2 separate regions of the Homo sapiens genome follow, and region 2 is linked to region 1. The links come from fine-mapping of genetic effects on gene expression. A gene starts in region 1. The other region holds a variant in brackets. All regions are shown on one strand. Distances are between the middles of the regions. Region 1 holds the start of BLTP3B (bridge-like lipid transfer protein family member 3B). Region 2 overlaps BLTP3B (bridge-like lipid transfer protein family member 3B).

What was found. PIP is the estimated chance that this variant, and not a neighbour inherited with it, causes the effect.
Region 2: its variant is fine-mapped to the expression of BLTP3B in whole blood (INTERVAL, PIP 0.98).

What each region holds. Positions count from the first base shown.
Region 1 is chr12:100,137,004-100,149,063 of GRCh38, reverse strand. BLTP3B (bridge-like lipid transfer protein family member 3B) reads left to right here and starts at 6,190. Exons shown (of 21, transcript NM_015054.2): 1 at 6,190-6,472. The coding sequence starts at 6,429. It overlaps BLTP3B-DT (BLTP3B divergent transcript), which reads right to left and starts at 6,009. Exons shown (of 2, transcript NR_186018.1): 1 at 5,721-6,009; 2 at 4,393-4,524. RefSeq lists enhancers at 1,661-2,469, 5,882-6,645 and silencers at 6,026-6,205, 6,526-6,775, 10,164-10,313.
Region 2 is chr12:100,100,565-100,112,624 of GRCh38, reverse strand. It overlaps BLTP3B (bridge-like lipid transfer protein family member 3B), which reads left to right. Exons shown (of 21, transcript NM_015054.2): 2 at 4,077-4,239; 3 at 8,674-8,712; 4 at 9,768-9,859. Among named protein-coding and RNA genes, the nearest start is that of BLTP3B, 36 kb to the left of the region's middle. The variant TG/G (reference allele first, on the strand shown) is at 4,513.

The DNA.
Region 1 (12,060 bases):
ACCTCTCACCTGAAATAATGCCACCACCTTCTCAATGCCCTTTCTGCCTCCATTCTGTTCTCCATCCTCTGAACTGACAGCAAAATTGTCTGTAAATATTTTTCTGACTCAGAAATATGAACATCTTCCCCAATTAACCCATCATAGAGGTCTTCAGGACTCACTATTTCCTATAAAATGATGTCTATATATTTACATTTACAATCTCATCTCCCTCCAATTTTTTTTTTTTTTTTTGAGGCGGAGTTCCGCTCGTGTTGCCCAGGCTAGAGTGCAGTGGCGCAGTCTTGGCTCACTACAACCTCCATCTCTTGGGTTCAGGCAATTCTTCTGCCTCAGCCTCCCAAGTAGCTGGGATTACAGGCACCCGCCACCATGCCCAGCTAATTTTTTGTAATTTTAGTAGAGACAGAGTTTCACCATGTTGGCCAGGCTGGTCTCTAACTCCTGACCTCAAGTGATCCACCAGCCTCGGCCTCCCAAAGTGTTGGGATTATAGGCCTGAGCCACCGCGCCCAGCCTAAACTCATTTTATAGTCTTGTGCTGGTGAATGCTTAACAACTAGATCTCTAGGGGAAAAAGCCCTGCTTTCTATGTTGTAAATACTGTCATCATGGCTGATTTCAAACTATCCTTGTGGACAAAAAGAATCAAAGTCTATAAACTATTTGAAGAGATTTATTCTGAGCGAAATGAGTGACCATGGCCCATGACACAGCGCTCAGGAGGTCCTGAGAACATGTGCCCAAGGTGGTAGGAGTGCAGCTTGGTTTTATACATTTTAGGGAGGCACAGACATCAATCAAATACATTTAAGAAATACATTGGTTTGGCCGGGCGCGGTGGCTCATGCCTGTAATCCCAGCACTTTGGGAGGCTGAGGCGGGCAGATCATGAGGTCAGGAGATCGAGACCATCCTGGCTAACACGGTGAAACCCCGTCGCTACTAAAAATACAAAAAAAATTAGCTGGGCATGGTGGCGGGCGCCTGTAGTCCCAGCTACGTAGGAAGCTGAGGCAGGAGAATGGCGTGAACCCGGGAGACGGAGGTTGCAGTGAGCTGAGATCGTGCCACTGCACTCCAGCCTGGGGACAGAGCGAGACTCCATCTCAAAAAAAAAAAAAAAAAAAAAATACATTGGTTTGGCCAGGCCTGGTGGCTCACGCCTGTAATCCTAGCATTTTGGGAGGCCGAGGCAGGCGGATCATGAGGTCAGGAGTTCGAGACCAGCCTGGCCAATATGGTGAAACCCAGTCTCTACTAAAAATACAAAAAATTAGCTGGGTGTGGTGGCGCGTACCTGTAGTCCCAGCTACTCGGGAGGCTGAGGCAGAAGAATTGCTTGAACCCAGAGGCAGAGGTTGCAGTGAGCTAAGATCGCACTACTGTGCTCCAGCCTGGGCAATAGAGTGAGACTCCATCTCAAAAATATATATATATATTGGTTTGGCCAGGCGCGGTGGCTCACGCCTGTAATCCCAGCACTTTGGGAGGCCGAGGCAGGTAGATCACAAGGTCAGGAGATTGAGACCATCCTAGCCAACATGGTGAAACCCTGTCTCTACTAAAAATACAAAAATTAGCTGGGTGTAGTGGTATGCGCCTGTAGTCCCAGCTACCTAGGAGGCTGAGGCAGAAGAATCGCTTGAACCCAGGAGGCAGAGGTTGCAGTAAGCTGAGATTGCGCCACTGCACTCCAGCCTGGCGACAGAGCAAGACTCCATCTCGAAAAAATGAAATACATTGGTTTGGTCCAGAAGGGCAAGACAAGTCAAAGGAGGGGAGCTTCCAGGCTATAGGTAAATTTAAACATTTTCTGGTTGACAATTGGTTGACTTTGTCTAAAGACCTGGATGATCTGGTTAAGATAAAAGATCGTGGAGACCAAAGTTCTTTTGAAGTCTTAATGTGGCTGCCCTTAGAGACAATAGATGACAAATGTTTCGTATTCAGACCTTTAAAAGGTGATAGACTCTTAGTTAATCTCTTCAGGATTGAGAGGGCCTGTAAGAAAAAAACCTAACTATGTTAATAGAGATTCTTTATAGATGCAAATTTTCCCCCACAAAGAATGGCTTTGCAGGACCATTTCAAAATATGGCAAAGAAACATGTTTTGGGGTAAAATATTTTGACTTTCTCCTTTGTCACTGATAAAACAGGATGAGGTAAAGAAGCTGGCCAAAACCCATCAAAACCAAGATGGTCATGAAAGCAACCTCTGGTCATCCTCACTGCTCATTAAACACTAATTATAATATATTTGCATACTAAAGGAAACTCCCATCAGGGCCATGACAGTTTACAAATGCCATGGTAACATGGAGAAATTACCCTATATGATCTGAAAGGGGGAGGAACTCTCAGTTCCAGGAACTCCCTGCACCCTTACTAGAAAACTCATGAATATGTACCCTTTGTTTAGCATATAATCAAGAAATAACCATAAGTATAGTTGGGCAGCCCATGCTGCTACTCTGCTTATGGCGTAGCTATCCTTTTATTTCTTTACTTTCTTAACAAACTTGGTTTCACTTTACTCTTGTCAGCTTGGTCTTGAATTCTTTCCTGCAGAAGGCAGGAACCCAAGTAGCCTCCCAGCCTGAACCCCAATTTGGGGGTCACCCTACCACAACCAGCATAGCTAAATATCTGCAGAGTTCAGTTTTGATATGGACAGGAGACAGGGAAATACTGGGTAGAACAGAGTGGTTCCCTGGCAAATGCCCTACTCTCAAGCCTGGAAACCCACCGTCCTAAATGGGAACAGGCATTTCTGTTTTTGTGCTCAAAAGTTGCCTTTTGGCCTGCCACAGCACCCTATCTTGTATCCATAGAAAGCCCAAACCCCAGGCTCCACAAGCAGATGAGCAGACAAGGAGATGAACAGATGAGCAGAAGAATGGCAGACCAGTGCAGCAGAGACAAGAGAAGTAGTGACTGAACGCTGAGAAGAGTTTGGCCACTGGATGGCCAAATTCCAGGGGAAGATCATCTTCCCACTCCATCCCCTTTCCAGCTTCCCATCCATCCTGTTGAGAGCCACCTCTACCACTCAATAAAACCCCACATTCACCGTCCTTCAAGTCCCTGTGTGACCTCTTTCTGGATGCCTGACAATGACCTGGATACTAAGAGGGCACTGAGCTAGTTAACACTTAAGCTATCTGTGGACAACAAAGCTAAAAGAGTGCAGTGTAACGCATGCCCACTTGGGCTTCAGGAGTTGCAGTTACCCACCCCTAGACGCTACCATGGGGCCAGAGTTCAAAAGTCCTTGCTCCGGCTTCTGCACTTGCCCATCTGTGTGCTCCCTGTCCTATTAGGGGTTTGCATGTGCTCGGTAGCCAAGCAGATGAGCCACCCCCCTGTGTACTTCGTGCATTAGTGTTAGTCCTGCGAGTGAAGTCAGGGAACCCTCCTGCTTCAGTTTTAAATCCAAGTCTTTGATTTCAGGGTCCATTTTTTTAAAAAAATTAAATGGATTTATTCATATCTTTGAAATAATACCTCTACTATAAGTCTGTCCCCAAATGAATTACTCCTTCCTCTGTGTTCTTATAGCACTTTGCTTGTTTTTGGTAAAGTAATTAATAATACCTAGCCTTTATTGAGTTTGCTATAAGGCAGGTTAACAGTAGCTACTAATAATAATATCTCTTAACACATGAGATCACTGAAGCTGAGAAAGATTAATTTGCTGAAGTTTACACAGTTATAAAGTGGCCAGCATTTGAACCAGAGTCTACTAACAGAGCTGAAGGTGTAAGTAACATGAGTCTGCCTTCCAAGCCAGGCCGTTAACTCTGATGGCAGGAACAGAGATTTTTGTTTTCATTTAGGCAACCCCAGGATACTTGAATAGTGCCTGGTTTATAATCTATGATAAATGTTGAGTGTAGTCAGCTGGGTGTGGTGGCTGATGCCTGTAATCCCAACACTTTGGAAGGCTGAGGCGGGCGGATCACGTGAGGTCAGGAGTTCGAGACCAGCCTGGCCAACATGGTGAAACTCCGTCTCTACTAAAAATACAAAAATTAGCCTGGTAATCCCAGCTACTTGGGAGGCTGAGGCAGGAGAACTGATTGAACCTGGGAGGCGGAGGTCGCAGCGAGCCAAGATCGTGCTGCTGCATTCCAGCCTGAGCGATGGAGTAAGACTGTCTCAAAAATAAAATAAAAATAAAATGAAATGTTGAGTGTAGTCAACTTACACGTCTATCCTTTCCATTCTTCAAAAAGGGCCAGCTTATTGGACTATGTGTAAACTACTTCCCACCCAACTCCCAAGATGTACAACCACACATCTTGCTAATACATCCCTCAGGGGTGGTACAATTTCTTTTCCTGTTTTAGATATCACTAGTGTTAAAAGAAAAACTTCAGCCAAATTAAATTTAAAGGAGTTTAACAATGAACGATTCCTGAGTCTGGCAGCCCCCATAATCACAGCAGATTCAGAGAGACTCCAGCACAGCCACATGCTGGGAGCAGATTTCTGGCCAGCAAAAGGAAAGTGAGGTCTAGAAAATGGAAGTGAGGTACAGAAACAACTGGATTGCTTACAGCTCAGTGTTTGCCTTATTTGAACACAGTCTGAACAGTTGGCTACATCTGGCCAAAACTCAGTGATTGGCACAGGTGTGGGCTATGGTCGGTTTATACCTCTGCTTATTTTCATAAGTTCATGATGTACAGAAAAACCTTTAGGCTGAACTCAATTACGTAAGGAGGCAGTGTTAGGCTAAACTTGACTTAACACTGAGTAATTTTTTTTTTTTTTGAGACAGTCTTGCTCTGTCGCCCAGGCTGGAGTGCAGTGGCTTGATCTCAGCTCACTGCAACATTTGCCTCCCGGGTTCAAGCAATTCTCCTGCCTCAGCCTCCTGAGTAGCTGGGATTACAGGCGCCCGCCACTATGCCCAGCTAATTTTTGTATTTTTTTTTTGTAGACACAGAGTTTCACCATGTTGGTCAGGCTGGTCTTGAACTCCTGACCTCAAGTGATCTGCCTGCCTCGGCCTCCCAAAGTGCTGGGATGACAGAAGTCGTCATTTTAATCTCTGAAAATGTTAGCTCTGTTTGGGATTGGGTGGGGTGGAGGTGTAGAATTGTAACAGTTTTCCCTAGTTCAACAATTTCCTTCCTTCCTTACAGAACTTTTCATATGATATTTACACCTTTAGGTTCAACCTAGTGAAGTGGGTAAGGCTGATGATTAATCTATTTCACAGATGATTAAAATGAAACTAATAGTAAAGAAATTATTTTCCCCAGGATAACACAGCTAGAAAATACCAGAGCCAGGACTTGAATTATACACCTTCTAATTCCTAGGTCCTAGACTACTAGGAACCATTGTCAACCTTTACTTCCCTTAGAATAGCAATAACCAAAGGAAACATTAAATTGCCACATTTAGGTAAGGGAAAGGCAGGACACCTTAACAAAAGAAAAAAAAAAAACACCAAAAACAAAAACCTAAGGAAGAATATGAAGAAAGGTGAGTAGGTCAAGAGAGCAAAGCAAGCACAGGAGTTAATGGCCGATTCTTAAAACATTCTAAGGAGGCCGGGTGCAGTGGCTCACGCCTGTAATGTCAGCACTTTGGGAGGCTAGGAGGGTGGATCACGAGGTGAGAAGTTCGAGACCTACTGGCCAATATGGTGAAACCTCGTCTCTAATAATACAAAAATTAGCCGGCCGTGGTGGTGCGCACCTGTAATCCCAGCTACTCAGGAGGCTGAAGCAGGAGAATCGCTTGAACCCTGGAGGTGGAGGTTGCAATGAGCCGAGATCGTACCACTGGACTCCAGCCTGTGTGACAGAGCAAGACTTGTCTCAAAAAAAAAAACAAACAAGCAAAAAAATAAAAAACATTCTGAGGAAATGAATAAGGGAAGTAGGACGTGGAAGTAAAAATCAGCGACGGGTCAGCGATGGAGGCGGGAACACCAGCAGAGGGAAGGAGGGAGGATTAAGGCCAAGAAGGATGGTGTATTGAGAGTCAAGGGCCCTGTGTCGCGAGGGCTAAGAACCCTGGCGCCAATGCCACAAACCTCCCGCCCCCGCCCAGAGCCCAGCCAGAGCCCAGCCAGAGCCCGCCCAGAGCCCGCCCAGAGCCGGCGTTGGCCCCGCCCCGCCTCGTGCCGGCCCCGCCTGGAGCCGCCCCGCCCCCGCCCTCCACCGAGTCTCTTAGGTGATGCTGCAGCCAAGATGGCGCCCGCGGCGGCCGTGGCGGCCTGAGCGTGATGCTCCGGGTTCTCGGCGGCGGCTGTGGCCTTGGCCGGGGCCTTGGGTCTCTCCCGGTCGTGAGCGATCAGCGCCTCTCCGCCGGCCGGGCTAGCCGGGACAGAGAGGAGACGGCCACGAAGAGAGGAGGCAGTGAGCAACAGGACGAGACCGCGGCGTCTCCAGCCTCGGTACCATGGCCGGGATCATCAAGAAACAAATCTTGAAGCACCTCTCCAGGTCAGTGAGCGCCTCGGTGTCGGCGCCAGTCGGCCTCCACCCCAGCCCGCACTGGAGTCAGCCTGCGGCTTCGGGGGCGGCGGCGCCTGGCGGCTGTGCGGGAGGCGACCTTCGGACTTCCCCGCTCTGGCCGGGGCAGAGGTCGCGGCCCCGGATCTCTTGTCGCCGGCGGCGCCGGGGGCTGGCCTCACGAATCGGCCCCTGACGCGTCTTCTCCCAGGGTGGGCGCGCGGAGGAGCCCGGAGTGCGGAGCGCGGCGGGCTGGGATCGCTCCCGGCGCGGCGTCTGGGGGCGTCCCGGCTCGGCTCTGTGCGGTACTGAGCGGAGGCTGGAGGTGGCCTGGCGTCACCCAAGTGCCTGGTTAATGTGCTGGGCTCTAACTCGAGTTCGGTGCTCCTTCCCCTTGGAGCAGAGCGGTTCCGTTAACCGAGGGCTTCTGGCGCAGTGTGGACGCTCAGTGGAGGCTGTGTTCTCAGTGGAACGTTAACCTTGTGATTGTTCTGAATTCCTCCCACCTTGGCGTTCCCGCTCTGTGGCATCAGAGGGTGTGCCTGTTTGCACAGTTAGGATTTGTTTTAGGTAAATAAGCAGAGTTCGCAGCTTTGGCAGGTTCTTTCTGGAGTCCTATGAGACCCACATCATTATTACTGAACATTTTTTTTTTTTGGTTTTTGCTCTTTTTCCTCTGCAACTCTAAAATTCAGGGAGTTAACATCTGTGGTGATTAAACCCAAGACATGTCATTCTCTCCATTTCATAACGCGGTTTTAGTCAGAAACATGACTCAGTAAGGCTGGCAGTTTGTTACTGCTCTTGGCTTCTCCGTGTTTGTCTCAAGACACAGGCTAAATGTAGGCTCTTGTTCCAAGTTGTTACCAGCGAACTCAAAGCCCTTGGTTAGGATCCCTTTCTGTTCGATTTGTAAGTTAATTTTAACTAATTTTGGGAAGACACGGGTATGATTATAGACTTGTATAGTAAACATAATTCTTGATTCCCCAGATTGTCTTATACCACAGGTTATATATTGGGAACAGAATTCTACTTCTGTGATTCAGCAAATATTTTCCTCACTTATAATACTGAATAAGATATAGCACTTTTCTTAAAAGTAGCAAAGTATAGCAGCGTGTGTGTGTGTGTGTACATATATATACATATGTACATATATACATATACATATATACACATATATACACATACATATATATGTGTACTACATATATATGTGTATACACTACACATATATATGTGTATATATGTAGTATTTTTTTAGTAGAGACTGGGTTTCACCAGGCCAGGCTGGTCTTGAACTCCCAACCTCAGGTGATCCGCGGTCCTCGGCCTCCCAGAGTGCTGGGATTACAGGTGTGAGCCCCCACGCCCTGCATGAATATGTATTTCTTAATGTTATCACTCATTGAAAAGTTTCTTTTAAAATTATATATATGGCCCAATCTTGAACTATCTTATTTTGGAAGGTTTTATCTATTTTTAATTTATGTCCTCCCGCCTTTCTCATACCCAGCTCCACAAGAAAATACAGATCTGCAGAAAATGATTTGAATGCCTACTTTCTCACTCGTCCAAGGATGATGCTGCATAGCTAGTACCACTCTAGATGCTTGGAAGAAAAGTTAATTCAATCAACAGATAGTGCATTAGAGTTTAATTCTTTTATAGAACTCCATTTGAGAGGGGCTCTTAAAAATTAAGAGCATGCATACCAAAGTATAATAAAAAAAATTAAGAACAAAGATGTAATGGCTTACTGCATGAGATAGAAAACACCCATATATTGAAAATTGAGTCTTTAGGGCTAGTTTTTATTTTATTTTATATATATATATATATATATATATTTTTTTTTTTTTTTTTTTTTTTTTTGAGACAGAGTCTCACTCTGTTTCCCAGACTGGAGTGCAATGGCATGATCTCGGCTCACGGCAGCCTCTGCCTCCTGGCTTCAATCAGTTCTCCTGCCTCAGCCTCCCGAGTAGCTGGGATTACAGGCATGCGCCACCACGCCTGGCTAATTTTGTATTTTTAGTAGAGACAGGGTTTTTCCATGGTGGTTAGGCTGGTCTCAAACTCCCAACCTCAGGTGATCCGCCTGCCTTGGCCTCCCAAAGTGCTGGGATTACAGGTGTGAGCCACCGTGCCTGGCCCTTAGGGTTAGTTTCTAAATCTGTATGATTTGTAATAGCTGTGTGATAAATAGTGTGATGAGGATTTTTTTTTTTTTCAGAGATGAGTTTTTGGGACACTTGAGTTTTCAGTTATTTCATATTTCAAAACATCCTTAACTCAGGTGACTAAAGAGTATCAAATTTTTATTTTTGGTTAATAAGTTAATCTTACTGCTAATTGCTGTCATCTCCTAAGAAAAATAGTTATTCAGAAATCTAAAGGCAGCTCGTAATTGACAAAAGAAGGCAGGTGTTGTGATAAATTATAGTTACTCAGGAAGGAATGAACTTTTGAAATTACCTGGTTCAAGTTTAATTTTATAGAATATCCAGTAATGAAGATGTCACTACATTGACCTAGTGGTCTGGGATACAGTAGAATATAGTTTACCAGGAAATAGTTGAACATACTAGTTTCTAATACTAGACATCATGTGAGGCCTGTGTATGCAACCCATTGCACCTTCTCAAAGGTGACCTTTCCTGACCACAGAGTTTAAAATTGTGAGCCCCCATATTGCCAGTCCTCTTGCTTGCATTATTTTTCTCCATAGCACTCATGCTTGTCTGTCGTACATATTTATTTCTTTATGTATTTTTGTCTTTCTCCACTTAAATGTAGACTCTATGAGAGCAGGGATTTTTGTCTTGAGGCTGGCATAAAGTAGGTACTCAACAACTATTTGTTGCATGAATGTGGATACATAACATGAATGAGCTTACTTTCTCTTACATTGCTTTTTTTTACTGAGGCAAGACTACTGCCAATATTCTTATAGATTTGGGAATGACCAGTTTCCCTGTGGCTTTAGGAGGCAGTGAGTAATTGAATCATTAAATAAATGTGGTGCCTTTGGATCCTGGAAAATAACTAGGAAAATGACCTAGTTCTTACAGGGGTTTATATGAGGGGTCTTCCGGTAAGGAAATAACCCAGTTATTGTATGGGGGGAGGAGTTCTGCCAGTAAGGAGGAAGACTGTGAACCAACATGAGAAAGAGCTCTCATTTTTAGCCTTGAGGTTGAAATATAGTGCAGTTGCAAGATTAAAACCATCTTTGCCTGGATGAAGGGACTTGAGAAGCTGGTATGTTGGGAAAGTATGGAAGAGGAATTGTTCTTAAGAGATTAACAGATTCTTTAACTCAATGCTAAACTATTTGAGAACTGTAAATCTATATACTTGTTCCTTGCCTAATTGTTAGTTTGTATTCCAAACATCTCTCCAGTTGTTAATAAAAAGTTTATCTACTTGAAGAATCTGAAATGAGGACAAGGAGGTGTGTTGGTGGGATGGGGGAGCTTAGAGTAGTGACATTTTTCCAGAGTGAAACAGGAAAAGCTTTTGAAGGAGAAACTGCCCCGATTTTTCAAACTGTAATAGGACTGAATGTATTTTGGGAGGGTTTTCTAGGAGAGTAGTTTTTCACATGGGAATGGAAACTTCTAAAGAGAAGTCGTAACAAATGTGAGAAAGGAAATAAAAGCAGAAGCTACCTTTCAGCTCAAGACATTAGTGTGTGTGTGTGTGTGTGTATGTGTATGTGTATACACATGTACACACCTGTGAACAGGCGCTTGCAAATCGGCAAAGTGGACGTATATTTAATTAAGCCAGGACCTGAAAAGGGGTAGGGAAGTTTTGGATACAGACACTCTCTTCTCCTTCGCTCCCTTAGGCTAAGGGCATACTGTGCTCTGCACAAGGTTTCCTGGGAGTGGGAGTTGACTGGGCAGACATTCACCTCACCTCGGTGGAGTCATCGTATAGTTTAAAGCAGCAGTTGTCAACCAGGGTCAGTTTGTCTTGAGGTGACATTTGGCAGTGTCTGGAGATATTTTTAATTGTCAAGACTTGGAGGGGAGGGTAATACTACTGCCATCTAGTGAATAGAGGCCAGGGATGCTGCTAGACGTTCTACATTGCACAGCATATTCCCTCACAACAAATAATTATTTGCCCAAATGTCAGTAGTTCCGAGATTGAGAAACCAGCTTAAAGTGTACAGGTGTGTGTCGTATGATTGAGCTAGGGTTCTGTGCTAGTAAAGTTGTTTTGCCTGCAAACATCAGAAAGCTGATCTATTTAAGTAAAAAGGGAAATGTAACAGAAAGCAGAAGAATATCTGAACAACCAAATCAAGGAAAGAACAGGAACCAGCTAGCTCCTAGAATCTCATTGGAAGAGTTCTTGGACCTTCCTCTTAAAGTAGCAGCAGGGTTTTTTAACCTTGGCATCATTGGCATTTTGAAATAGATAGTTCTTTGTTGTGAAGGCTGTTCTGTGCATTGTAGGATGTTTAATGTCTCCAGACATTGCCAAATGTCTCATAGGAGGCAAAATTACTCCTGGTTGGGAGCTACAGCTTTAGAGTGCTGGCCTATCTTCCATAATTCCCAGTCTTTGATCTCTCCTGTCAGGTTTCAGAATCCCCTAGAGAGAAAGCCTTTGTGACCCAGTTTTGTCTACCCATGGTTCAATTAGCAATGGCAAAGGGTTGTACAGCAAAAATATGGTAATGGAGAGGGCTATTTTGAGTTAGGCTTGTTGCTCCATTAGTCATCTGTAATAGGCAGTGCACTAAATTAGATTTCCAAGGGCCTCATTTGCTACATTAAGGAAATTGAACTTTATCCTGGGGGTGAGGAGTGACTACTAATAAAGGTAAGAGGGATATGCTCATTAAAGCAGTCTTATTTTTGAAGTCTAGGGTTTAGGAGCAATATCTGGGGTGGAAATACGGAGTCTACAAATGGACTCTGAGTAACTTAAGTAGAAAATGGGGCCAGGTGTGGTGGCTCATGCCTGTAATCCAAGCACTTTGGGAGGCCAAGTCAGGCAGATCACTTGAGCCCAGCAGTTTGAGATCAGTCTGGGAAACATGATGAAAACTCTGTCTCTACCCCAAATACAAAAATTAGCCAGTCTCATAACCTGGTCTCAAAAAAGAAAAAAAGAATATTCATTATGGACATTCAGAAGGGTTAAACACATGCAGGATTTGGTGCCTGAATGGCAAAGTGATGAGAGGGATTAGAGTGCCTCACTTTGTGTTGATGGGATTGGCCACTAGATTGAGGATATATAAGGAAGGGGAGGAGAGGGCGGTAGCTGATAGCCTGGAGAGAAAAGGAAAGAACCGTCAAAGGATTGGGAATGCTATCTAGGTGGAAAAGTAATGGAGTAAAGGAATGAGATAATTGGAAGGGTTGGAGATTTTGTCTGAAACTGTCACATTGAAGTTTAAGATTTTAGAAGTGAAGTAGATCTGGTTTAGGAAAAGCTATCTGAGGCTGGGCGCCGTGGCTTATGCCTATAATCCTACCACTTTGGGAGGCTGAGGCGGGTGGATCACCTGAGGTCGGGAGTTCGAGACCAGTCTGACCAACACGGTGAAA
Region 2 (12,060 bases), 36 kb after region 1:
TAGACCCTAATAATGGTGTATTGATTGTAAAATGTATAATCTAAATCAAGTCTACTTTTTTCATTTGCTTGGAAATTTTATTGCTGTTGTTAGCTATTATTTTTGTTTTTTGTTTTGTCTTTGAGACAAAGGCTCTGTCACCCAGGCTGGAGTGCAGTGGCAAAATTATGGATCACTGCAGCCTTGACCTCCCAGGCTCAAGCAATCCTCCCAGCTCAGTCCCCTCAGTAACTGGGACTACAGGAGTGTTCCACTATGCCTGGCTAATTCTTTTTTAAATTTTTTGTAGACATAGGGTCTCACTAATATAGTCACTCACTAATATATAGACCAGCCCAGGCTGGTCTCAAACTCTTGGGCTCAAGTGATCTTCTTGCCTTGGCCTCTCAAACTGCTGAGATTTCAAGCATGAGCCACTGCTCCTGGCTAAATTACATATATTTTAATCCTCCTCATTTTTCACTTTTGCTCTTGCCAGGCCAGGCTTTTTTGGTTTCCCTTGAACTTTTGTCTTTATAAAAGTGGTACATGCTCGTTATAGAATACTTATACAGAGAAGTATAAATAAGGAGAAGTAAATCTAGGCTGGGTGTGGTGGTTCACACCTGTAATCCCAGCACTTTGGGAGGCTGAGGCAGGAGGATTGCTTGACCCCAGGGATTCGATATCAGCCTGAGCAACATAGTGAGTCCCTGTCTTTAAAAAATAACTAGCTGGGGCTGGGCACGGTGGCTCATGCCTGTAATCCCAGCCAGCACTTTGGGAGGCCGAGGTGGATGGATCACAAGGTCGGGAGTTAGAGACCAGCCTGACCAACATGGTGAAACCCCGTCTCTACTAAAAATACAAAAATTAGCTGGGCGTGGTGGTGCGTGCCTGTCATCCCAGCTTCTCAGGAGGTTGAGGCAGGAGAATCGCTTGAACCCAGAAGGCAGAGGTTGCAATGAGCTGAGATTGTGCCACTGCACTCCATCCTGGGTGACAGAGCAAGACTGTCTCAAAACAAAACAAAACAAACAAACAAAAAAAAACAAAAAACTAGCTGAGCATGGTGGCATGTGCCCATGGTCCCAACTGCTTTGGAGGTGGAGGTTGCAGTGAGCCAAAATCAAACCACTGCACTCTAGCCTGGGCAACAGGGTGAGACCCTGTCTCAAAGTAAATTAAATAAATAAACTAATTAGCTGGGTGTGGTGGTCCCAGCTACTTGGAAAGCTGAGGTGGGATCACCTGAGTCCAGGCGGTCGTGGTTGAAATGAGCCATGATCACACCACTGCACTCCACCCTGGACAACAGAGCGAGACCGTGTCTCAAAAAAGCAAAAAAAAAAAAAAAAAAAAAAAAAATCTAAAACCCCACCAGCCATAGGTAGTCATGGGATTTTATGATGCATTTTTTACATACTTGAAATTATAGCACATAATTTTGTGACTTGAATTTTCATCAAACATTATAATATAAACATTTCTTTATAAGACTGGCAACATATATTACTTGATATGTATGTATTAATAATATAGTGTATTATAATTAGATGGGGTATCCCTCTTGGGACGTTTAGATTGTTTTCACTCTTTTTTTCTTGTAGATATCCTTGAAATGAACATTCTTGTACATACCCAATCAAGGTGTTGCCTGATTTCTTCACTAACCATGCTTCACCTCCATCCCCATATTCCTCCATGCCCAAGACTAAGGATATATAGTCAAATGTTAGAATATATAGTCAAATATTCTGTTTGAGTTACTCAGATTAGTCTGTTGTCCATCCTTCCTTCCCTATAAATATTACAGATAACAGTATTTCTGATATTTTTTCAATTCCACTTTATATCATCTCCCTCCTGTCTTAGAACCTTTATGCATTTTATTCCTCTGCTTGGAATACTTTCTTTCCCTACCCCCTTTTCCTCCTTGCCTAGTTAACTTCTCTTCCTTTAGATACCAGCTCAAAAGTCCCTGTTTCAGAGAAGCTCTGGATTAGAACTCCTGCTATATTCTCTCTTAGTTGTGCCATTTGATCCGTCTCACCAACTAAACTGAAAACTCCACAAGGGCAGGGACCTCAAGTGTACTGCTTCCCAGTATGTGTGTCTGCATAATGAATTCTCAATAAATACTTATTGAGTGTTGTCTTCTGGCTCTAATATTCTGCCTCAGGGAAGTGGCAGGGTTTTTTGTTTGTTATCTATGGTTAGGAATGGCATTCTATGAGAAAGCGTCGTGGTATTGAATCAAGCGTGATCAGAAGCAAGTGTAATACAGCTCAGCATCATTGGTCAAATACATGTGTTAAATGATTGTTGTATTTCTCAGTTGACATCCTGTGAGAAGATATGAATTCAGATAGAATCTGGCTCAAATTCTGGTTTGGAGTCAGTGGAGAAACATGAGTTTATTGATTGGTATTCTTGTTGACAAGTAGGGCATGTGAATAACCCAGTATATAATGTTGCTTTATATTTAATTTCCAAAAAAAGTAAAGACTAACTCTTGTTAGCCAGTAGTTTAGTTTTTTTCAGTAATTTCACTTTTGAAAAATTATTTGTTGGGCATAGTTAGTAATTTTTATTTTTTAGGGTTGTTTGGAAGATAAAGTAATGTATATGAATGTATTTCAAAGTAGATGTGTAATGTATTTTCATTGTTAGTTGTGATATTAGGCAAGTAAGTTCAAGTTTCTCCTTAGGTTTACTTATTCAAAAATTGGGTTAAAATTAGTATAGACCCTAATAGGTTATCATGGGAACTAAATGAAATAGTCACGCATGTATGCCAAGAGCTTGGAACACAGTAAACCCTTGGAAAATGCTCACTCTTACATTAACTATTTCCAATCTTTTTTTTTTTTTTTTTCTGAGACAGGGTCTCACTGTGTCACCCAGGCTGGAGTGCAGTGGCACAATCTCAGCTCACTGCATTCTCCACCTCCTGGACTGAAGCGAAACTCCCACCTCAGCCTCCTGAATAGCTGGGACTACAGGCATGCGCCAACATGCCCAGCTAATATTTTTGTATTTTTAGTAGAGACCAGGTTTCACCATGTTGGCCAGGCTGGTCTTGAACTCCTGCCCTCAAGTGATCCGCCCTCCTCAGACTCCTAAAATGCTGGGATTATAGGTGTGAGCCACGCACCTGGCTGCCTTTATCATTTCTTTGTGTTACAGACATTCCAGTTACACAATTACTTTAAAACGTACAATAAATTATTGTTGACTGTAGTCACTTTGTTGTGCTGTTGAATACTATATCTGTCTTAGTCCGTTTTTATACTGCTATGAAGACATACCTGAGACTGAAGAAAGAAGTTTAATTGGCTTACACTTCTGCATGGCTGGGGAGGCCTCAGGAAACTCACAATCATGGTGGAAGGTGATGGTGAAGCAAGGCATGTTTTACATGGTGGCAGGAGAGAGAGAGAGAGAGAGAGAGAGAGAGAGAGAGAGAGAGAGAGAGAGAGAGAGGAAAACTGCCAGACACTTTTAAATCATCAGATCTTGTGAGAACTCACTCCCTAACTATCATGAGAAACTACCCCCATGATCCAGTCACCTCCCACCAGCTCCTTCCCCTGACATGTGGGGATTACAATTAGAGGTGAGATTTGGGTGGGGACACAGAACCAAACCATATCAGTATTGTATTCATTCTACCTAATTGTATTTTTGTACCCACTACCCATTCCCACCCCTGCTCCCCACCACTACCCTTTCCAGCCTCTGGTGACCATCATTTCTACTCTTGATCTCCATGTATTCAATTGTTTTAATTTTTAGCTCCCACAAATGAACGAGAGTGTGTAAAGTTTGTCTTTCTGTGCCTGGTTTGTTTCACTTAACTGTAGTGTCCTCCAGTTCCATCCATGTTGTTGCAAATGACAGGATCTCATTCTTTTTTATGGCTGAATAATACTCCATCGTGTATATGTACCACATTTTCTTTATCCATTTGTCGTTGATGGACATTATGTTGTGTCCACTCCTATTATATTTTTAGTTCTCTGTATATTTGAAAAAATGACTCTGGAGTATAGTAACTGACACATAAATAAATGTCAATGTGTATTCTCTTTCAGATTTACCAAAAATTTATCTCCTGACAAGATAAATCTAAGTACCCTTAAAGGAGAAGGTGAACTGAAGAATTTGGAGTTGGATGAAGAAGTACTCCAGAATATGTTGGATTTGCCAACATGGCTTGCTATCAACAAAGTTTTTTGTAATAAAGCGTCCATTAGGGTGAGACTTTGATATCTGTGGCTTGATATTTGTGGAAGGCCTTTCATGTTTTCCTTCTATATTTTGGCTCTAGCTTTTAAAATACTTAATTTTAGATAATTGTGTAAAAACATTTTTATTAATATAATTTCAAAAGAAAGATACCTTTGCATAAATGTGTGCCTTATGTGTAAAGGCATATATTAACTACTTTATAGATCTTAATTTTTGTGTAAAGTGATTCCATTAATATTTCAAAATTATTAATTTGTTAATAAAATAATTGCATCCATT[TG/G]GTACATGTTCAAAGATAGTTTTTTCATAAGTTTTATTGTCAAATGGGACAATCTAAACTTGTAGTGAGTTGCTGGGCATGGTGGCTCACACCTGTAATCCCAGCACTTTGGAAGGCCGAGGTAGGCGGATTGCTTGAGCCCAGGAGTTTGAGACTAGCCTGGGTAACATAATGAGACTGCATCTATACTAAAAATAAAAATAAAAAAATAGCCCAACATGGTAGCACATGCGCCTGTAGGCCCAGCTACTTGGGAAGCTGAAGCAGGATGATCGGTTGAGTCTGGAAGGGTGAGGCTGCAGTGAGTCATGATTGTGCCACTGCACTCCAGCCTGGGTGACGGAGTGAGACCCTGTCTCAAAACAATTTTTAAAAAGTAGTGAGTAAATACTTTTCAAATGAAGACATGAGAACTAATAAATTTGCAGTTTTATCCCTTTTCTTCATTAGTTTCTTTTTCATTTTGAGATTTTTTTTTGAGACGGAGTCTTGCTCTGTCACCAGGCTGGAGTGCAGTGGTGCAATCTCAGCTCACTGCAACCTCTGCCTCCCGGGTTCAAGCGATTCCCCTGCCTCAGCCTCCCAAGTAGCTGGGATTTCAGGCACGTGCCACCACGTCTGGCTAATTTTTTTGTATTTTAGTAGAGATGGGGTTTCACCATGTTGGCCGAGATGGTCTCAATCTCCTCACCTTGTGATCCGCCCGTGCCCAGCCCATTTTGAGATTTTTAAGGGTCTCTGTTTACTGTTAGTATCATTCCTATTATTATTATTATTATAACTTATTATTCTACTTATCTTTTTTTTTTTTTTTTTTTTTTTGGGAGATGGAGTCTTGCTCTGTCACCCAGGCTGGAGTGCAGTGGCACCGTCTTGGCTCACTGCAGCCTCTACCTCCCAGGTTCATGCAATTCTCCTGCCTCAGCCTTCCAAGTAGCTGGAATTATAGGCGCATGCCACCACACCTGGCTAATTTTCGTATTTTTAGTAGAGATGGGGTTTCATCCTGTTGGCCATGCTGGTCTCAAATTCCTGACAGGTGATCCACCACCCGCCTCTGCCTCCCAAAGTGCTGGGATTACAGTATGAGCCACCGTGCCCGGCTGACCTCTACTTATCTTTAATCATATGTCAATTTGTGTCACTTCTTGGTCTTAAAGATGAGGCTTTGTTTAAGAGTTGTCTGCTTAGTTGAAATACTGCATGCTGATTGTTTCCTAAAACTAAAATTTGGGCTCCTAAGAAAAGATTATAGAAAAGTTCCTATATCCTTTGATGGTCACTTTTAATTTTTGTTCTATCCTTTGGAAACCTAAATATCTACAAAGACTTGACACTTTCAGTAAATTTTTTTTTATTTCAATAGCTTTAGAGATACAAGTGGTTTTTGTTTACATGAGTGAATTGTATAGTGGTAAAGTCTGGGATTTTAGTGCATCTGTCAGCTGAGTAGTGTATATTGTACTCAGGAAGTAGTTTCATCCCTCATCCCTCTCCTACCCCTACCCACCTTCTGAGTCTTCAAAGTCCATTATGCCACTCTGTATGCCTTTGCATACCCATAGTTCACCTCACACTTAAAAGAACATGTGGTATTTGGTTTTCAATTCATGTTACTTCACTTAGAATAATGGCCTCCAGTTCTTTTCAAGTTGCTGCAAAAGACATTATTTTGCTCTTTTTTTATGGCTGAGTAGTATTCCATGGTATTTATGTACCACATTTTCTGTAACCACTCATAGGTTGATGGGCACTTAGATTGATTCCATATCTTTGCAATTGTGCATTGTGTTGCAATAGACATATGTGTCCAGGTGTCTTTTTTTTTTTTTAATAGAGTCATGTTTGAAATGAGGACCAGTGTCTTTTTCATATAGTGACTTCTCTTCCTTTGGATAGGTACCCACTCGGTAGTGGGATTGCTGGATCGAATGGTAGATCTACTTTTAGTTCTTTGAGAAATTTCTATACTGTTTTCTATTGAGGTTGTACTAACTTATATTCCTACCAGCAGTGTATAAGCATTCCTTTTTCATCACTTCCATGCCAACATCGATTGTTTTTCAACTTTTTAGTAATGGCCATTCTGGCTGGAAAAAGGTGGTGTCTCAATGTGTTTTTAATTTGCATTTCCCTTATGATTAATGATTTTGAGCATTTTTTCATGTGGTTGTTGGCCATTTGTATATCTTCTTTTGCAAAATGTCTGTTCATGTCCTTGCTCACTTTTTAATGGGCGTGTTTTTTTTCTTGCTGATTTGTTTGAGTTCCTTGTAGATTCTGAATATTAGTCCTTTGTCAGACACATAATTTGTGCATATTTTCTTTGTCAGATGCATAGTTTGTGAATATTGACAATCCGTAGGTTGTCAGTTTACTCAGATGATTATTTCTTTTGTTGTGTAGAAGCGTTTTAGTTTAATTAGGTCTCATTTATTTTTGTTGCATTTGCTTTTGGGGTCTCAGTCATAAATTCTTTGCCTAGGCCAACGTTCAGAAGAGTTTTTCCTAGGTTTTCTTCCACAGTTTTTATGGTTTCAGATCTTAGATTTAAAACTTTCATTTATCTTGAGTTAATTTTTGTATACAGTAAGAGATAGGGATCCAATTTCATTCTTCTACATGTGGCTATCCACTTTTTCCAGCACCATTTATTGAATATGGTGTCCTTTCTCCAGTTTGTGTTTTTGTATGCTTTGTCAAAGATCAGTTGATTGTTAGTATTTGGCTTTATTTCTTGGTTCTCTATTCTGTTCCATTGGCCTGTGTATTCTGTTCAATGGAACAGAAACAGAATACTTTATTCTGTTCCATTGGTCCATGTGCCTATTTTTACACCTGTTCCATGCTGTTTTGGTTACTATAGACTTGCATAATTTGAAGTTGGGTAATGTGATGCCTCCAGTTTTGTTCTTTTTGCTTAGGATTGCTTTGGCTATTTGGGTTCTTTTTTGGTTCCATATGAAGTTTAGGATTGTTTTTTCTAATTCTGTGAAAAATGATGTTAGTACTTTGAGAAGAATTGTGTTGAATTTGTAGATTGCTTTGGGCAGTATGGTCATTTTCACAGTATAGATTCTTCCAGTCCACGAGTATGGGATATATTTCCATTTGCTTATGTCATCTATGATTTTCCACAGTGTTTTGTAGTTCTCCATGTGGAGATCTTTCAACTCCTTGGTTAGGTATATTCCTACATTTTTTTTTTTTTTTTTTTTTTTTTTTTTGTAGTAGCAGTAGTTATTGTAAAAGGGATTGAGTTCCTGATTTGATTATCAGCGTGGTTTTTGTTGGTTTGTAGCAGTGCTACTAATTTGTGTACGTTGATTTTGTAACCTAAACCTTACTGAATTTATTTATTAGATCTAAGAGCCTTTTGGAGGCAAAACTTGGCATTTTTAGTACAGGGTATATCAACATTATGTATTTGATGTTTCCTACATTTTATATTAATGGCCGAACTTTTGTATTTGTCTTGAATATTTACAAAATGATTGCTCAGAATTTTAGGATTAAACAGGTTGTTAAGCTCTTCATTTAAATTATGATATTAAGATTTGTTTTAAGGATTGTTAAAAAAAAAAAGATACTTAAAAGAACCTGAAATTGGCCAGGCATGGTGGTGCGTGCCTGTAATCCCAGCACCTTGAGAGGCCGAGTTGGGTGGATCATTTGAGGCCAGGAGTTAGAGACCAGTCTAGCCACCATATCAAAACACTGTCTCTACTAAAAATACAAAAATTAGCCGGGCGTGGTGGCACTTGATTGTAATCTCAGCTACTGGGAGGCTGAGGCACGAGAATTGCTTGAACCCAGGAGGTGGAGGTTGCAGTGAGCCGATATCGTGCCACTGCACTCCAGTCTGGGCAACAGAAAGAGACTCTGTCTCAAAAAAAAAAAAAAAAAAGAAAAAAAGAACTTACAATTTCTATTCAAAAGATGTCTGAGGAGATATAGCTAGTAATAATTTCTTAAATAAAATGGGTACATCTGGTTTCAAAAGTATGAGTGAGTTGCTTAGTTTATTTTGTAGTTTAAGAAAAGTGATTTTATATAATTTGGTGTGTCTGTCCTATATTAATATAACACCTGTATTGATTACTGTTTACATTATTTTCTTCTTAATGATTGATCTTAAATTAAAAATTTTTCATTTGTAGATCCCATGGACAAAACTGAAAACACATCCCATCTGTTTGGTGAGTTCTGAAACCACTTTAGAAATAAACATTTATATATATACATTATCTAGCTACTCTGTTCATAGTAATCTTTTGTTTCATGGAAATATAGTCTGGATTTTTCACCAGTTAGGTTTCATTTTATTTTGATAGGACTCAGGTTTTTCATCCTTTAAATGAGAAGCTTTAACCTTAAAGTAGGAGCATCTTTAAAGTTTTTCAGGTCTAGAATACTGTGTTCTAAATTGGTATAGTATTTTATTGCATCATTTAACTCTTTGTTGATGTACTATGGGATTATTCTTTCAGTAACATTTGATCCAGACTGTCTTTGTTTCTCCTTTTAGTGATCTAGTAAATTATGAAATATGTTCTTTAATATACTTTGCTTTTTAAGGAAAGTTGAAGAAAATTGATCATTTGTTCGTTCATTTAAAAAATACAATGATCAAGAACATGAATAAAACAAGACAGTTTCAGATAATAATAAATGCTATATATGAAATAGAGAATGAAGAATGACTGGAGTAGTGTTAGTGATGGCGATTAAGGACATTAGATCTTTCTTCAAGGAGAAAAATATTACCCTGAGAAAGAACCTTTTCCATTATGGGAGTGTTTATTTTTTTTCACATTTCCTGCTTATTTCATATTTCCCATAGTTTTGTGTCTCATAGCTCAGATCTTAGATTGTGATAAGCTTTTTGGGGTAGTTCAGTCCTACTTATTAATATATAATTTCATCAATGAATATATCTGGGAGTAGAGATTCTGTTTTCATGAAATCTGATGATTTTAGTAGTTAATGGCTATGTCTTAATTCCCCACCCCCCAACACCTGTAATACACATAGCTTTTCCACCAGATAATAAATGCCTTGAGAACTGATTGAGTGCTTTGTGTTCTTTTTTGGCATTTGTCTTTTTAGACCTGTAGAGAGGCACTTAAATGACTCTGCTCACTTTTTACTTTCTTCCTAAAGAAAAATGAAAGAGAAAATAATCTTAAATAATACTTTAATAATATACGTAGAATAAATAATCTAATTGTTTATATTTTAACGTTTTTATTAGTCCCTGGATAAAGTAATAATGGAAATGAGTACATGTGAAGAACCAAGAAGCCCTAATGGCCCATCACCAATTGCAACTGCTTCAGGACAAAGGTAAGCTACTTCCATTAATCTGCATGACTGCCAATAACAGGACATTAAAAAAAAAAAAAAAAAAAGCCTTAACCTCAAATGGCCTCTATTTCAGTCAGCTCTCCCATCAAACATTTTACAATTTTAGTTATATACATTGCAAAGTTGCAGATTTGACTTTTAACTTTCTTTATTCATCTTGCTTTCCTTGCTATTATTAAATAATAGTGATTAACTAATGGCAGAGCAGCAACAGAAAATGGAAGCAGAAGAATTTAGGCATTATATAAATCAGATAGCCTCTGATCAGTTTCTCTGCATATCATTTTCTGTGCATCAGTGGAACTTTTATGACTCTTAAGAGTTAAGTTGGGAGGCTGGGAGCGGTGGCTCATGCCTGTAATCCTAGCACTTTGGGAGGCCGAGGCGGGTGGATTCCCTGGACTCAGGTGTTTGAGACCAGCCTGGGCAAAACGGTGAAACCCTGTCTCTACTAAAATACAAAAAACTTTAGCTGGGCATGGCGCCATGCACCTTTAATCCCAGTTACTTGGGAGGCTGAGGCAGGAGAATTGCTTGAACCCGGGAGGCGGAGGTTATAGTGAGCCAAGATCGCGCCATTGCACTCCAGCCTTGGTGACAGAGCGAGACTCCGTCTCAAAAAAAAAAAAAAAAAGAGTTAAGTTGGGCTCGGTGTAGTGGCCCACGCCTGTAATACCAGCACTTTGGGAGGCTGAGGTGGGCGGATCACCTGAGGTCAGGAGTTTGCCACCAGCTTGACCAACATGGTGAAACCCCGTCTCTACCAAAAATACAAAAACTGGGTGCGGTGGTATACGCCTGTATTCCCAGCTACTGAGGAGGCCCAGGCAGGAGAATTGCTTGAACCCGGGAGGTCAAGGCTGCAGTGAGCTGAGCTCATGCCACTGCACTGCAGCCTGGGTGATGGAGAGAGACTCTGTCTCAAAAACAAAGAGTTAAGTTGATGCCTTAAATTACAGACCTTTTGGGTTACTCTAAAATTCATTAAGTTTAAAATGTTTTTGCTTTCCACAGGTTGTATTTTGATAGATGAAAATCAGATGCTAATACAGCAGAAGTATGGGGATCATTTCATAAAGTCTTTTTGAAAAGTTAGAAGTTATTAAATTTTTAAAAATATGTTGTCTGCTTTTTTGCACTCAGTGAAATTTAAATCTAGAACTATACATGATTTTTCTACAACAGGATTTCTGCATTATTTTTGCGTTCACATTAATTGTTGACATAGATTTTTAATGTGATTAATGCCTCCTCATATTGCGTAAAATAGCAGCTCTGAACATGTATAGTATTCTAGGTGTTATGTAAAACAATTGATAAAACTTTTCTTGAGGATGAATGCATTCGTGTGTGTACACAGACACACACTCACTTACTCCTGTTTTACAAAGGTTGAGCCACCTTTATGTTAGTGCATGCCATGAGAATACCTACAGTGCATGCCATGGGAATCTAATGGTGATTCGTTCCACTTCTAAGAGTTGACTAAAGGCCAGGTTTATCAGATGTGCAGTTTATATTTGGACTACAGATATTAGTGACTGGGAAAAGAGCTTTCATGTTAACTTCTTTGTAATGTAGCATCATCCTGCAACTTCAGATTTTACAGGTTAGATTATGATTTCAGTTTTCATAGAATAGTTGTTGGCCTTTAGGTTGGCTAGAGTCGGAAAGAACTAAAATGAATCATTTTGTCCTTGTGTGCTTAGTATAGTTGATAGTGTTCTTCCTAATTCTTGTTTTTATAGTATCATAAGCTTTATAATTTTGGCTTTCTAATCATGTGATGATTTAAACTATTTAAATCATCCTCATATTTTGACATATGGCAGTATGGTTAATCTATTTCAGCATTTTTTCAGACTTGCCTGATTGTAACAGTCATTTAGAGTGCTTATTAAATCTACAAAGTCTCTGAAGCTCCTTTTCTTGAATTTCTGATTCAGTAGGTCTGGAATGGATATCAATAAAATGAATACATTCATTGAGTGGTGTTCAGAGTAAAAAAAAAAAAAAATAGAATGTGAATATGTATTTTTGGGTCTCACTCTGTTGCCCAGGCTGGAATGCAGTGGCATGATCTTGGCTCACTGCAGCCTTGACCTCCCAGGCTCAATCGATCCTCCCACCTCAGCCTCCCAAGTAGTTGGGACTACAGGTGCAAGCCACCATACCTGGCT